4 linked regions of the Homo sapiens genome follow. The protein of the gene in region 1 purifies or fractionates together with the protein of each later gene. This does not show direct contact. Each region holds a gene or a part of one and is shown in the gene's direction. Other genes may lie near its edges. The genes, in order: CSN2, CRYBB3, PPP3R1 and CCDC80.

Region 1 (4,390 bases):
TGATAAGTAAATGGTACATCAATAGATTCTGTCTCTTCAGAAAGGTTATATGATCCTTAAGGGAAGTGTTTAACTCTTATGATTCATTTGAAGTGATCATAATGTATCAATTGTTATTAGAATATATTTTCAATGAGTATTTCTTTTTTTAAAAATCAGATGGGGTTTTAGATATCATTTGTTGTCAGGGAATGAGCATGGTGGTAGAGAGAAATTAGCATCTATTAATTGCTTTTTTTTGTACCATGTCCTTCTTGACTGCATTCATCTGACTTTCTTTTACATAACAAGCTCATATAGAACAGTTTAATACATAAGTTTAATGATTATACAAAGTTATTAATGATATTATCAAAGAATTAATGCCTTTATTTCCTGATTTATATTGCAAAGTAAGAATTGTTAAAACTAAACCTAATTTTATTTTATATTTTTCTGTAGGAATCTATTACAGAATACAAGGTAAATTTTCACATTTAAAATGTACACATTTTCAAAATTTCCTCCTTTTAATCTTTACAGATGGTAACATATCTTTATATATGATATATCTTTAGCAGAAAGTTGAGAAGGTTAAACATGAGGACCAGCAGCAAGGAGAGGTAATTTGTTAATGATAAGTATATGTTTAAAATTATTATAAAGTATAATACATACAAAAATATTTATAATGTGTATGTTGATTCTAAAGAATGATAATAAAATAAATGCCATATACCCACCAACCACTTTAAAAATTAAACATTGATAAAGTCAATATATTTTCTAGGATATGCATGCATTTTTAAACTCATAATTAATTTCTAGAATACAGACTAAATACATAATGATATTACTAATGGTATATCTGTTTTCAACAAGTACACATTGGTGGGAACATTTCCAGGTTGGGAACTATGATCCTCTTATTTCCAAGGTGGATATGGTAATGAAAAGGTGTATACGGCTGGTAAAAAAACCTATGTAAAATTTGTCCCATATTGCCTTTATTCCCATATGGACAACACAAAATCCTGTATTTCATTAAATTACATTTATGGTGATATGTTTACCCAATTATAATTTTCAATTGCTTTGTGTACCAATGAATTGTTTGGAGTCACATAAAATATTTCTAAAATCAAATTTAAACAAAAAAATTGATGTCTCTTGAAAGACTCAAGAGACTATCTTCTCCCAAGGGAAGGAATGTAAGAATTTGGCCGGTGTTAAATTACTTCCTGAGATTAGCCACAAATTAAGACTGATTTTCTTTTTCATCAAACCAAAACAAAACAAAAATAAACCTTGGAATTGTCCCTCTAAGTCTTTTTAAACTGATCTCTTTTCACTGTATGAAAACAATTTGGTCTACTATTGGCACAACTGTGTTGAAAAGTAAATTCTCTCTGAAGACCAAAGTGTACAGCTACAGCTATCCAGGCAATTCAGGAAAATGTTAAAAAAAGTGTTTCTGAAATATCCAAACATTGATTTCACTTTGGCCTGTGGAGTTACCCATGAAGTGAGTGGATTAAAATTTTTCAACAAACAGTTTACTCATTTTTCTTCGCATGACTCAAGATACTTTCTTAACCAAAATAAGTGAAATATTTTCTCCTCTCTTTTTACTCATTTATCATTGTCTAAAAGAGAGAAATGAATTCATTATGAATGGCAATTATAGCTTAATCAAGGACTCAAAGATTCTTTTTCCTTCTTTCCAGGATGAACACCAGGATAAAATCTACCCCTCTTTCCAGCCACAGCCTCTGATCTATCCATTCGTTGAACCTATCCCCTATGGTTTTCTTCCACAAAACATTCTGCCTCTTGCTCAGCCTGCTGTGGTGCTGCCTGTCCCTCAGCCTGAAATAATGGAAGTCCCTAAAGCTAAAGACACTGTCTACACTAAGGGCAGAGTGATGCCTGTCCTTAAATCTCCAACGATACCCTTTTTTGACCCTCAAATCCCAAAACTCACTGATCTTGAAAATCTGCATCTTCCTCTGCCTCTGCTCCAGCCCTTGATGCAGCAGGTCCCTCAGCCTATTCCTCAGACTCTTGCACTTCCCCCTCAGCCCCTGTGGTCTGTTCCTCAGCCCAAAGTCCTGCCTATCCCCCAGCAAGTGGTGCCCTACCCTCAGAGAGCTGTGCCTGTTCAAGCCCTTCTGCTCAACCAAGAACTTCTACTTAACCCCACCCACCAGATCTACCCTGTGACTCAGCCACTTGCCCCAGTTCATAACCCCATTAGTGTAAGTCCAAATTTACTGGCTTTGCTGTTTCATTCAAGATGTGTATGTGATGGTAGAATAAAAGAATAAATGTAGAGTAAATGAATTAAAAAAACAGTTTAGATAAGTGATTCTTTTATTATTATACTTTAAGTTTTAGGGTACATGTGCACAACATGCAGGTTAGTTACATATGTATACATGTGCCATGTTGGTGTGCTGCACCCATTAACTCGTCATTTAACATTAGGTATATCTCCTAATGCTATCCCTACCCCCTACCCCCACCCCACGACAGGTCCAGGTGTGTGATGTTCCCCTTCCTGTGTCCATGTGTTCTCATAGATAAGTGATTCTTAATGCTTACCTATACAATAGAATCACCTGGAGAACTTTTCCCCACAAATCCCAATGCCTAAGCTTACCCAGAGATTCTGATATAATTGTTCTAGTTTTTTGTGTAGAGGAAACTGAGTGTTGAGAAAAAAACTATTGCATGAATTCTGGTTTAATTAGTCTGTTGAGAATTCTGATTTAGATAAAGTAATTAAGGCTTACAAAAGCCGGAATTAAATTTAATAATATGATTGAATTTGGAAAAAAAAGCTAAAAAATGTTCTGTCATTTTCCTTGTGCACATCTCTTTTACACAAGCCTTACTTCACATCTTGTTTTTGCTATAAGTATATATGAAGGCAAAAGACTGAGATGCTTATTTCACTACTTACAACATTCTTAAGGCAAGTTTTCTTACTAAGAGGTTATTTATTTATTTATTTATTTATTTATTTTACACAAGCCTTACTTCACATCTGGTTTTTGCTGTAAATATATATGAAGGCAAAAGACGGAGATGCTTATTTCACTACTTACAACATTCTTAAGGCAAGTTTTCTTACTAAGAGGTTATTTATTTATTTGTATCTGTTTATTTTTAAGGTCTAAGAAGATTTCAAAGTTAATTTTCCCTCCTTATTTTTGGTAAGTTTTGGGAGTTTGGAGATTTAATTGATCATTTTTATACATGATGTCTTTTTACATTTAATTCTCCTAGAGAAGTCCAATACAGTGAAAATTTCATACATACAAGAACTTTTTTTATTAATTATCAATTTAATGGTTGACTATCATTTACTGACCTGAAACTATCTATCTTTTGCATTTCAAATAACTTTAATTTTATTTATGTACTATTGACAGATTTGACTGGCTTGCTTTCAAGGGCCTATATACTTACATTTGATTATCACTATTTTTAGGAAAGACAGAATATATACTTATTTTACTTTTATGGAAATACATTTGAGCTTTTGTCAAAAGCCTATTTGCATTTTTATTTCTAACCTAGCCTTCATAAAATTTGTATTTACTTTACTTAAAATTATCTTTTAATTCATGAGTTAAAATTACTCCAAGTGTAAAGGTTAAAAAGAGGAGAGAACAGCATTGCAATTCTAAGATATAAAGCCTTTTGGGATTATGAAATACCAGACATTTCACTGAAACAATTTCAAGTTCACTAATATTTGATGAACTTTGGTGAAGTTTGGTGAACAAACTTTACATGCCTCCAAACCGCAACAGAATGCATTTGCAATACAATTTCTTTTGTGAATTAGTCACACCAAAGTTAAAAGTGAAGAGAGTTGAATAGTTACGTGTTATAACATAACTAATTATATATTTGCTCTCTATTCCACAGAATTGACTGAGACTGGAAATATGATGCCTTTTCCGTCTTTGTATCACGTTACCCCAAATTAAGTATGTTTGAATGAGTTTATATGGAAAAAATGAACTTTGTCCCTTTATTTATTTTATATATTATGTCATTCATTTAATTTGAAATTTGACTCATGAACTATTTACATTTTCCAAATCTTAATTCAACTAGTACCACAGAAGTTCAATACTCATTTGGAAATGCTACAAACATATCAAACATATGTATACAAATTGTTTCTGGAATTGTGCTTATTTTTATTTCTTTAAGAATCTATTTCCTTTCCAGTCATTTCAATAAATTATTCTTAAGCATATTTCAGTTCTTCTGTCTTTTTTTCAAACCTAATCGGCCTCTTTAATGTTAACTTTGATTTATTATTGATGTTCAAAATAATCCTGGAAGAATGCTTTGAAATTGAATAGAATGTTTTGAATTGAATATTAAAAGA
Region 2 (3,391 bases), on another chromosome or scaffold:
AAAGGAGGGGCAGAGGCTGGAGCTGGGAGCCTAGCAGAGGTGGGATGTTTAGGACTCTGCTCTTCTAGGTGATCTTGTACGAACTAGAGAACTTCCAAGGCAAACGCTGCGAGCTCTCGGCCGAGTGCCCCAGCCTGACCGACAGCCTGCTGGAGAAGGTGGGCTCCATCCAAGTGGAGTCCGGGCCGTGAGTACCTAGACCCCCAGTCCCTCGCCACAGCCCTGAGCCTTCTGGGAGTGTGGAGGCCCCAGTCTGAGCTCTAGATCTGTTGTGGGGCTTTTGACAGCTCCCCTGCCTTCTCTGGCCTCGTTTTCCGCATCTGTAAAATGAGAGTTGAAGAATTCTCTAGAATCCTAGATGTCTGCAGAAAATCCCAGGATACCTGAGGTTGGAAGAACAGCAAGGTCAACCTAGCACCTAACTCAGTGACTGGAACATGGGATTTAATATTTATAATTTTAATAATAATTGTAACACCTAAAATTTAACATGCATTATGTCATTGAATCGTCATGACCCTGTGACAGAGGTATCATTCTTATTCCCACTTTATAGATGGGGAAACTGAGGCCAAAGTTGGTAAGTGTCCCATCCATGTCCACAAGGCAGGCAGGTCTCCCAGCTGGGCCCTGAATTCCCGCCTTTGGATTGCAAGTCCAGGCTCTGGCACTAACCATCTGGGTGATCTTCGGCAAGTTGCTTCACACACCAGGCCTCTGTTTTCTCATCTGTTGAATGGGGATAACAATGGTACGTACTTCAGAGAGAGTTTTTATGAAAATGAATGGAATGATGCAAATAAATACATATTAATAACAATACAATACAAAGAAGAGGAAAAGGAAGAGGAAGAAGTCACTGTCACCTATGGAATACTTACTGTGTACCGGGCATTGTGCTAAAGACTTTTCTGGGTACCTTGCACAGAGGCTAGATTCTCAATAACATACCCTAGGATGGTTTTCTGGCCCAGAGTCTCAGACAGTTCCCGGTATGTCCTAGCAGCTCCTTTAATTACAGGTCCAGGAATTAGCAGTAGGGTTGGAGGGAGGGTACAAGGTTCAAGGTCAGCAGCTCTTGGACACTTCTCTCACTAAACTTGAATCCTTCCTCAGCTGCAGCAAAGGTGACCCAGCCAAGCCTCTTCCTCCCTCAGGTGGCTGGCATTTGAGTCCAGGGCCTTCCGCGGGGAGCAGTTTGTTCTGGAGAAGGGGGATTATCCTCGCTGGGATGCCTGGTCCAACAGCCGTGATAGTGACAGCCTTCTGTCCCTCCGGCCTCTGAATATTGTGAGTGTGGTTCCTGCTCACTTCTGGGTGTTCCTGGAAGCAGGGTGCACTGAGAGCTGGTCAGGCAGCTCATTGCACAAGCTGGGCTGAGGGTTTGGCCCATATGGACCTGGCCTGGGAAGGGCCCTCATGTTTCTGATTTGAACAATTGTGTGGGACAAGAAGTGGGATATTGAAGGGACATTCGGTTGGGGATTGAGACACCAGGACTCACATCTTGAATTAAACCAGCATAGCACTGGGACTTTTCTTTGTAACCGTACTAAAACGATGAGCCACATGGCCCAGTCTCAAATCAGTATTGTTATCAAAGAAATGCAGTCCAGGAAATAACTTCAGAAAGTAGCCAAAATACTTTAAGTTCTCCACTTGTGTTTTTCTAGCACCTGAAAGGGACACAGTCCACAGTGACACTTTTTATTTATTTGTTTATTTATTTATTTTTCGAGACAGACTCCTGCTCTGTCACCCATGCTGGAGTGCAGTCTTTCTCTCTCTCTCTTTTTAAACATTTTTATTTATGTATTTTTATTTCATTTTGAGTTGCAGTCTCGCTCTGTCACCCAGGCTGGAGTGCAGTGGCATGATCTCTGCTCACTGCAACCTCTGCCTCCTGGGTTCAAGTGATTCTCCTGCCTCAGCCTCCTGAGTAGCTGGGACTGAAGGCACATGCCACCACGCTGGGCTAATTTTTGTATTTTTAGTAGAGGTGGCGTTTTGCCATGTTGGCAAAGCTGGTCTTGAACTTCTGGCCTCAAGTGATCTGCCTGCCTCGGCCTCCCAAAGTACTGGGATTACAGGCCTGAGCCACCACGCCCGGCCCACAGTGACACTTTAAACACCACCCTTCTCCCTCCCCTGCTTCACTCACACCCCGCAGCTGCTCCAGCCCTTTCTCTTTGTCACATAACTGAGTCCTCCTTAGAGGGCAGTGGAAGAGGGGAAACTGGGAAGATTAAACCGGCATCTGGTTAGGAAAGAGGGAAAGCTCATATGTTGATACTTTTGATCTCTGTCCACCCTCTCCTGGCCTCAGTTTCTCTATCATTTAAATGATGGGATTGAACAAGATCTGGAAATTCCTTTTCAGTTTTATAATCTACGGCTCTAGGTTCCTAAATCAACCAGCTTTGGAGGAATCTCCCCGTCCCTCCTACAGTGAATTTGGGGGTGGAGGCATCTCCTGAGGCCCTTCCCTCCTGCAGCAGGTTTGGGGGTGGGTGTTATTTTGTGGTGACCTGTTGATTCTTTCCGGCATCTGGAGCCTCCTTGACCTCTGTTCTGGATATGGGAGCAGCCGCTCACCCCACGATATTGCCCTCAGGATAGTCCACATCACAAGCTGCATCTGTTTGAGAACCCAGCTTTCAGTGGCCGCAAGATGGAGATAGTGGATGATGACGTGCCCAGCCTGTGGGCTCATGGCTTCCAGGACCGTGTGGCGAGTGTCCGTGCCATCAACGGGACGTAAGGGACCCAACCCTCACCCTTGCCCCATCTTCTGGTCAGCCATGCCTCTGGCTCCAAACAGAATCAGTGCCCATAGTTTCTTATTATTTTATTTATTTATTTATTTATTTTTGAGACGGAGTCTTGCTCTGTCGCCCAGGCTGGAGTGCAGTGGCGCGATCTCAGCTCACTGCAAGCTCCGCCTCCCGGGTTCATGCCATTCTCCTGCCTCAGCCTCCCGAGTAGCTGGGACTACAGGCGCCCACGACCACGCCCGGCTAAGTTTTTGTATTTTTAGTAGAGACGGGGTTTCACCGTGTTAGCCAGGATGGTCTCAATCTCCTGACCTCATGATCTGCCCGCCTCGGCCTCCCAAAGTGCTGGGATTACAGGTGTGAGCCACGGCGCCCGGCCATCGGTGCCTATAGTTTCTTGCATGATTCATGTTCCCTGCACTCCTGTACTGTTGAGATTTCTAGGCAGCCTTGACTTAAAACAAGTAAAATCTGTTCTCTCCACCTGTTCCCATCTGAGTCCTTCCTGCTTTTTTAAACATCCCCACACCCTTGAACTGATTCTTGAAATGTTCTTCCCCCTCACAACTCTTGTTCTTCTTAACAAGGGGCCCAGGATGTATGCAGTTATTGAGATG
Region 3 (4,390 bases), on another chromosome or scaffold:
TCCAAAGAGCTGGGGTGGTAGGGTGGAGTGCTGGGAGAAGGGCTTCATATAAACAACCAGGAGTCATAATGGCACCAGATTTCTTAGTAGCAGTGTGGGAAACCCACAAGAACATGGAGCATTTTGCCTGTGCAATTCTGAGGGACAGTTATTTCCAACTTAAAATTCTCTATACACTCAAATGGTAGTAGAAAGACACTTTTAGGTATGTAAGGCCTTCTCATTTTGGAAACTACTGGAGGATGTGCTCCCACTGCAATAAGGTCATAAATCAAACAAGTAGAGAGTGTAGGATCCAGGAAGCAGAGGGTCCAGCATGGTGAGAGGGAGGATCCCCAATATGATGAAGAGCGCCAGAGATGACAGGCCTGGAGACAAAAAGTCTAGAGTGCAGCAGGTTGGAAGGCTCAAAGAGTGCTTTCAAGACAATAAAATTGATAGAATTACATAATATTTTTAGTTGAATGTATTTAGAACAAAAGTTAGGGGTTGAATTATAATTACATAGAACACCCAGCAAAGGAATTAACTGTGTACCAAACAAATGTGCAGGAAAGAAAAAGTAATCATAATACATAGTTCTGTTTATCTGTATTGTATAGTTATAACAATGAAAAATGCTGATTTTTTTTTTTTTTTTGAGAGGGAGTGTTGCCTCAGTTTGTTGCCCAGGCTGGAGTCATGCCGCCTAATCTTTTTTTTTTTTTTTTTTAAGTATTAGAGACCTGGTTTCACCATGTTGGTCAGGCCGGTCTTGAACTCCTGACCTCAAGTGATCTGCCCACCTCAGCCTCCCAAAGTGCTGGGATTACAGGCGTGAGACACCGCACCTGGCTGAAAAATGCTGAATTTCTGATGAAAATAAAGATAAAGCCATTGGAATGGTACAGAGTTTGTGAAGTGTGTAGGGTAGGAGATAGAGGGAAGAGAAGTATGTGAAAGCTAAAAATCTTAAGAGACCTGGAGGTAAATAGTGCAAGTCAGCTGAAAACTTTAAATTATTGCCACTGCATAAAAGCAAATAGAGAATGAGGGCAGGGTGACAAACTGCTTTTTTTCCCACAGCAGGAGTTGTAGAATTCGTTGGCACTTTATGCTTTAGTTTTCAAATAAAGGGACTATTTTTTTAGTTTGAATTTAAAAATAATACAGATAACAAATACACATAACAACATGGATTAATCTCACAAGCATAAAATTGAGAGAAGCTAGACACGAAAGAGATTCCATTTATAAAATGTACAGAAACAGAAAATAGTAGCTACTGGTCGTGTGTGTGTGGTGGGGGGAGGGGGGGGTTGGAGGAGGGGAGATGTCTGGTGACTGGAAGATCTGGGTGCTGGTTATTGGGTGTTTACTTTGTGAAAATTCATCAAACTGTGGACATTTATGACCTATGCATTCTCTTTATGTAGATTAAATGTAATAAAACATTCCCCCCAAATGATACAGATACTACACTTACACATTACCATGTCAGTATTCACTGAGATGTGTATGACTACATGTATTTGACTCTACAGAAAAATAATATACAGACATGTTTATTCACTTGGTACTTTTTAAATTGTCTAGAACAGACTGAGAGTGACACGCATATTTGATTGTGAGGACAGTTTTTGTCATAATATCTGGTTATCGTGTGATATTAAACTACTGAAGTAGGGGCCAGCAAACTACAGAGCAAACCAGATCCTGCCCATAGCCTGTTTATGTCTGTCTTTGAACTAAGAATCGTTTTTACCTGAAGTGTTGTTTTGAAAAAAAAAAAAAAAGGAAAATGTGAAAGAAACTACATGTAGCCTGCAAGACTGGCCCTTGTACAAGAACACCCAAAAAGTAATGCCTGTTATCCTAGGAGAAAGAAACCATGAAAATTCTAACTGGAGGTCACTCAAGTTTTGTTGTTTTGGTTTTTTGTGTGTCTTTAAATTCACCTTCTGAATATAGCTAAAGTAATTTTTTTTTTTTTTTTTTGAGATGGAGTCTCGCTCTGTTGCCCAGTCTGGAGTGCAGTGGCGCGATATAGGCTCACTGCAGCCTCCAACTCCCGGGTTCAAGCGATTCTCCTGCATCAGCCTGCCCAGTAGCTGGGACTAGAGGCACACGCCACCACACCCGGCTAAGTTTTTGTATTTTTTTAGTAGAGACAAGGTTTCACCGTGTGTTAGCCAGGATGGTCTCGATCTCCTGACCTTGTGATCCACCTGCCTTGGCCTTCCAAAGTGCTGGGATTACAGGTGTGAGCCACCACGCCCAGCCCCCTAGTAATATTTTTTAAAATTTGATGAAGTAGTTAGACCACGAATGAGGAGTTTCTCAGACACTGTGAAGCTTGATTTGTTCCTGTCTGTTGCAGGTTGTAGGTGGCCTAGATATCCACAAAAAGATGGTGGTAGATGTGTGACTCTTATCAGAGAGTACCACCCAACACTTTTGCTTTCTTCTCCATCTCTGAAGATCTGCTCAAGACGTCCAGCAATGCTCTCTGTGTATTTAAATGGAAGTATTTTTCTCTGTGAAGCCACATTTTCCAACATGAGCCTCATGAAGCCAACTAAGTGTTATTGAACTGTAATTCTCTCAATAACTCAGTGTAGCACTTTAAAGTCTGAAGGACAGCAACATGAAAAGAGCATATCAATGTGGTGGAGAAAGGGAAGGGGTTGGCTTTTTAATTTATTTTTCTTCATCTTTTATAACAAGAAAGTATCTATATATACATATGTAAATATTTATATATAGATATATGTAGCTTTCTATATATGTAGTAGGTTGGCTTTAATTTAATATACTTGATTCAGAAACAAAACAATAGAGTACAAAAGTGCCAAGCAGAACATAAAACATCCTTACTTTTATTTCACACAGTTTTATATATAGATAGAAGACTGTACAATTTGAGCCGGGTGTTAGGCCAGCTATTTTCCTTTTCCTGTGCTTTCTCCTTTGAGAGATTGACAAAGCATTTGTTAACGTCCTATTATTTACCTTAATTACATTTTTGTAACAAAGGAGTCTGTAACTTTATTTATACTTATGAATATATCCAGGGACTACTTCTCATTGCTGAGCAGCTTTTAATACACCTCTGCTTGAGGAGAAAGTCTAGTTCATTGCTACTGCCAAGAGCTAGTTCTTGTGTTCATATAGTAACTGCACAGGGCTTATAGCTGCTTCATTCTGCTACTTTGTAACTAGGAGCCATTGCATTTATTAAATGTCCCTCAGTAACGTTAAGTGCTAGTTGTGATTTTATACATAAAGGCCAGAAGCTGTCTGAGGCAATCATGATTGATTGTATGTATCACTTACTGAAGAATACCTGAAGTGATCATGTAACTACTTATAAGGGATATCCATTTGTTTGATTACATGGGTAAATAATTTGTCATTAAACTTGTGTTTGAATCATGAATTCCCTTGTTTCAAAAGACTTGCAGCTAATCTAAAAAACTGGTGATATTTAATATGCATGTATGTATCTAAACACCCACATATATTTGTGGTTTAAGTGTGAGAAATCTTGCTAATCTATATGCCACAGAAGAGCAAAATTGTATCCAAATTTATGCCACTTAAATTTCTTTACCACGAGGGATAGAGCATGCATACTGGTTTTTTTTTCTTGATTTGCCCATATAATTGGTAATGGATAACTTAATAAATTTGTGTGATATAAAAGTAGTGTATCATGTTCTACTGTTTGATCTTATCCCTTCCCATTTCTGCAAAGGTACTGTTAGCTGGAAGAAAAACATTTTGGTTAGCTTTGTATGACAGTAGTCTTTCCCTTTATAGTTTCTCTATAAAAACTGGTTTTAAAATCAGTGGAAAAGGGCAGGTTGAATCAAGGTGAATCAATCTGAAATTGAGCACACCTGCCTGCCATCGCTGTTCCTTCAACTGAGTGCTGCACATCATGGGCTCTGTCTGTGAGAGAAAAATCCCGGTGCTTGGTGTCCTTGCATGACATGGAGTTTTGCATGTAGATCAATTTAAAATGTACCTCTTGTTTACATAATTTGCATAATTTTAAAAGATAATGTTGCCAAACTTTGGAAATGTTAATGTTCAGACTGAAAATCTCCACTACATGTAACTTTCTTCCTCTGGATCAGTGGCATGGCTTATAATCCCAGCCAGTGGTTTGAACTGTTCCAGTGTCAACTGCCATGTGCTCTGCTTCAAGGGGGAACTAGCCTTTTGTGAATTTTTTGTACATAAGTATTTGTTACAAATATTTTAGCAAATGCTTTCTATTTCTCTTGCTTGTGCATATCTTGGCTGGCGTTACAGAAAAATAGTGTAAACATTATTTCCTTACCGGGGAATGAGGGTTTTTTCTTTTTCTTTTTTTTTTTTTTTTTTTTTAGTTTGTGTGTGGGGG
Region 4 (4,390 bases), on another chromosome or scaffold:
AAGCCACGTATTTATTGGCTAACTAGGATTCAACCATTTGTTTCCTGGATTTTTCAAATAATAGCATGAGGGCAGTGAGCTTAATTACACTCCAGATGTCCAGAAAGGAAGTAAGTATTCAATCCAGCACAAAGACTGGTGCTGGCTAGTGATGAAAGCCCTCACAAACCAGGTGTTCCCAGTGTCAAATGTGTTACCTACCAACACTTTCACAAAGTGTTCTCATTCCTTATTTCAGAGAAGCTTGGAAAAATCATTACATCTTCCACCTCAACTTCTATATGGTCCCATTATAAGCATCTGGTACTGCCTTGGCAAATTTTTAGCATAATCCTACTGTTTTCTAGACATCTGGATTGAATATGAACTGTAGAGGGGCTGTGGGTCTTTTTTTTTTTTTTTTCTGCCTTATTGGAAATCAGGTATTATGATTTGGGCATTTTCCTCACTGAATGGTAGCCGGGACCTGATTTTGGGGTGGGAGATCTTTTATTTTGTTTCTCATCTAATTCCTGGAAGGCCTCTCTTTCCTTGTGTCATGTCCCAGTTTACCCTTATGGGAAAGGCTGTAGCACTGTGAGCCAAGACTGGGAGTCGGCCATGGGATAAAAAGAATTGGCATGAGCCATGGGCTCAGTGAACCAAAAAACTCCAGCCTTGACTGACTTTCAGCTGGAAATCTATCAGATGGCCTTACTTTTCCTTAAAAATAAATCAAGCTCTGCCTACTATTCCAGACTTTTACTGGGCCTTGAAAGCAGGGGCACACATCCAACTACAGTGTGGGCCGTACTCACCAGCTGGTCCATCTTGCTAAAAGTATTTGGACATCACTGATGAACCTACAAACGCCAAGAAACTTACCTTAAGATTTTAGGCTTTCATGTAAATAAAGTTATTTATGCTTGAGCAAATTCCAATGCCTATCTGGTTTTGTCAGCACAGAGTATATTGCATGTGGGGTTTAAAATGGCCTAACACATAAAGGCATTCTTTCTTGTTAGTGATATCTAAAATGTCAGTCTAGGATAGGAATGTTGGGTGTGTATGTTTAGTGAATGGATTACAGACAAATTTTGTCAGATAGGAAAAAGTTGCTGGCTAAAGGCACTTCATTGCAGAATGAAAAAAGAAGTGGGGGGAAATGCACAGCAAGCATGTTTCTTTCTTAGCAATATTTAGAGATGAAAAATATTTTAACATTGGCATTTTATCACCAAATTTTAAGAGCTAGAATACACAGGACATTTAATAGGGCAAGGGAAGTTTTTTGATAACTTCTTTCAAAGAAAGGAGAGTTTGAGGGTAATCAAGAGAGGTAGCAAAGTTCATGGAGGTGGAATATGGCAACAAGGAGAGAGAAAATGTTGATTTCTTACTATCTAATGACTTCATAAGTCAATTTTTAAAATGAGAATGGTACGCCAGGTGCAGTGGCTCATGCTTGTAATCCCAATACTTTGGGAGGCCGACGTAGGCTGATCACTTGAGGCCAGGAGTTTGGGAACAGCCTGGCCAATATGGTGAAATCCCATCTCTACTAAAAATACAAAAATTAGCTGGGCATGGTGGCAGATGCCTGTAATTCCAGCTATTTGGGGGGTTGAGGCAGGAGAATTTCTTGAACCTGGGAGGCAGAGGTTGCAGTGAGCCAAGATTATGCCAGTACACTCTAACCTGGGTGACAAAGTGACACTCTGTCTCAAAATAAATAGATAAATAAATCAATAAATAAACAAAATGAGAATGATAGTATACAAATCAGTCTAAAATACCCTTTCTGTCTGATCCTGTTGAAGAGAATTGTTCTTTCTAGAGAAACCTCAGTCATCAGGATCCACAACAATTCAAAAATGCTGCTTTGCCTCTGGGGCAGTCCTGAAAAATAGACCCTTTTCCCCCAACTTCTCCTTTCATCAGTGGTGACAGTGCCTGGCAGCTGCCTTCTCTAGACCCTGCAACACTGAGCTGGGAGGAGAGGCAGGATGAGTGCTCAGACTTCCACACAGTGGCTGTGTGTCCCCCTCTGCTTTGATAAGTCTTTACTTATCAATCATTCTGTGCCCTAGAGACTAGAGAGCCTGTCTCCTAACCTACTCAGTCTTCTTAGTCCACTGCCCTTGCTGCCTCCAACATCAAGCATATCAGTGTCAAGACCAATCCCTGACATTCCAAGGGGGAAAAGTGCCTGATATGTCAAATGTACAAAACAAGTGTTTGAAGAATGTAGTGGAGGGATTGGCTCTTCCAATTGTAGTCATCAGATAAGGTATTGAAAATATCAGAGAATTTTGAAAAGTAGGTTGATTTAATGGAGGGACCTTGAAAAATGAGTAGGTTTTTTTTCTTTTGATAGAATAATGACTAGATCAAGGTATTTTTGTTTTTGTTTAATTTTTCAAAGAAATACTTTTTTTAAATTTTCAAAGTCAAAGCTATATAAAAAGGTGTACACAGACAAGTCTTGTATCCTTCCTGACCCCTTTACCCTGCTACTCCCTGCACCCACAGGTAATCATTTTTGTTAATTCCTTATTTATTCATTTAGTACTTTTTTAGACAAATACAAATAAATACCTATATATTTTTCTTTTTATACAAAATATAGCATATTATATATATTGTTCCACACCTTGCTTTTTTCACTTAAAATATTTCTAGGAGATCTTTCTTTATGAGTATATAGCAATCTTCCCCATTTCTTATCAAAAAATTGTGAGATTCTCTCATAGTTTAAACATTTTGTCCATGGACACTTGGACTATTTTCAATATTTTGTTCTTACACATATATCACACATACATAGAGCTATATATGAACAAGGTTACGATTAAATTGTGAAATTGTGTGTGCATCTTTCCAATACAGTCTAAGAAACAGGATTGTTAGACTAAATAGAAAATGTAGTCTGAGTGGATACTTCCTGATTTCTCTCCACACAAGTTGAATCATGTTGCAGTTCCAACAACAATGTTTAAATATGTCTATTTCCCCAGACCTCTCCAATTAATGTGTGTAATCAAACTTTTGGATGCTTTTGACCAGTGTAATATGTGAAAAATGGTATCAGTATAGGGTAGTATTGATTTGCATTTCTCATGTTGTGAGTATGATTGAACACATTTTCATGCTTAGGGAGCATTTATATTTCCTTTTTAGTGTTCTTTGCCCATTTTTCTATTGCGTTGTCATCTTTTTCATCCCAATGCATAGGTACTCTATATAAATTGGAAAAAAATTCAGACTCCCACCTCCCCTTTCTACTCCAAGATAATGACTCATTTGTTTAGGAATGAGGTCCAGGAATCTATATTTTAAAATGTTGCTCAGGTGATTCTGATTTGCTATTAGGTTTGATCTAGAGCAGAAGGCTAGGTAGAGGATAAGAGGTGAAGAGAGGGCTAGAAATGTAGTTTGGCACCTGAAATTAGATTTCTAATACCAAGATAAAGTATTCAAACTTTATATGTAAACCATGTGAAGTCACTAAATATTTCTGAATATATTTTTCAAATATATTTATAACTTTAAGATTTGATGGAGTCAATCTGTAGGACAGCAATTCACTTGGACAGGACACACTCTTTATTAATAAGACAAGTTGCTCTTTCTAGAGAAAAAGTGATCAGGAATGGCCAGGGTAGTCCCACCTATCAATTTAATCAGGTCACTCATCTCACAGTGGGGTAGTAGATAGGAAAATGACCCACTCATAGAGTAAAAGGGGAGTAAGCAGATCAATTGCAAAGTAATTTAAACTTATCCATTTCCAATCAAAAGGAAATAAGTTCCAAGCTGGAGGCCAAGGTTATCCTAACTGAAATAACCTGCCATGGACTGCTCAGCACTCCTGGCAATGTTCTTGAGAATAAAAGCAATTTAGCTTCTGCTGGCATCTACCTCCTGGCTTATGCAAAGCACAACCAAGAGAGTTTTGGCCCCTACTGACTTCTTGAAAAGAATCGTTATATTTTAAATGCCTTACAAATATGTTTTATTTAAAAGACCTAATGCATGCAAAACCAATTTTAGAAAAAAATATATATGAATGTGTTTTCTCAAATTACATTAGACTGTGTTGCGGGTTCACAAGATCAAAGGAAAGTGTGAAGGTTTTATGGTGGGTTTTCTACACAGTCCCAGAATCACTCACCTTATCTATACCTTATTACTGTCTTTTTCATATATCTTTCTTATGGGAGAGTTCTAGTGATTACCAAATCTTTACTGAATGCTGGGGTTGTATGCTAGGAACTGTGCCAGCCTGAAAGGATGTAAAAGGTGACCAAAACTCAGTCTCTATTGTTGAATTACTCATATCTAGGGGGAAGACAGATATGTAAACAACTGGTTGCAATGCAAGGTGATTAGCATTATTACAGAAGAATGC

The links.
Region 2: the proteins of CSN2 (region 1) and CRYBB3 purify together in Homo sapiens (co-immunoprecipitation; 2 studies listed by BioGRID and IntAct, with this or other methods). This does not show direct contact.
Region 3: the proteins of CSN2 (region 1) and PPP3R1 purify together in Homo sapiens (affinity purification with mass spectrometry; one large-scale study listed by BioGRID and IntAct). This does not show direct contact.
Region 4: the proteins of CSN2 (region 1) and CCDC80 purify together in Homo sapiens (co-immunoprecipitation; one large-scale study listed by IntAct). This does not show direct contact.

The regions. Positions count from the first base shown.
Region 1 is NC_000004.12:69,955,121-69,959,510, reverse strand, and holds the end of CSN2 (beta-casein isoform 1 precursor), read left to right. Parts: intron 1-441; coding exon 442-462; intron 463-557; coding exon 558-602; intron 603-1,706; coding exon 1,707-2,237; intron 2,238-3,155; coding exon 3,156-3,161; 3' UTR 3,162-3,197; intron 3,198-3,918; 3' UTR 3,919-4,255; downstream 4,256-4,390. UniProt on the Homo sapiens protein: Important role in determination of the surface properties of the casein micelles.
Region 2 is NC_000022.11:25,202,606-25,205,996, forward strand, and holds part of CRYBB3 (beta-crystallin B3), read left to right. Parts: intron 1-68; coding exon 69-187; intron 188-1,157; coding exon 1,158-1,290; intron 1,291-2,614; coding exon 2,615-2,757; intron 2,758-3,391. UniProt on the Homo sapiens protein: Crystallins are the dominant structural components of the vertebrate eye lens.
Region 3 is NC_000002.12:68,178,980-68,183,369, reverse strand, and holds part of PPP3R1 (calcineurin subunit B type 1), read left to right. Parts: intron 1-2,359; coding exon 2,360-2,407; 3' UTR 2,408-4,390. UniProt on the Homo sapiens protein: Regulatory subunit of calcineurin, a calcium-dependent, calmodulin stimulated protein phosphatase. Confers calcium sensitivity.
Region 4 is NC_000003.12:112,623,880-112,628,269, reverse strand, and holds part of CCDC80 (coiled-coil domain-containing protein 80 precursor), read left to right. Parts: intron 1-4,390. UniProt on the Homo sapiens protein: Promotes cell adhesion and matrix assembly.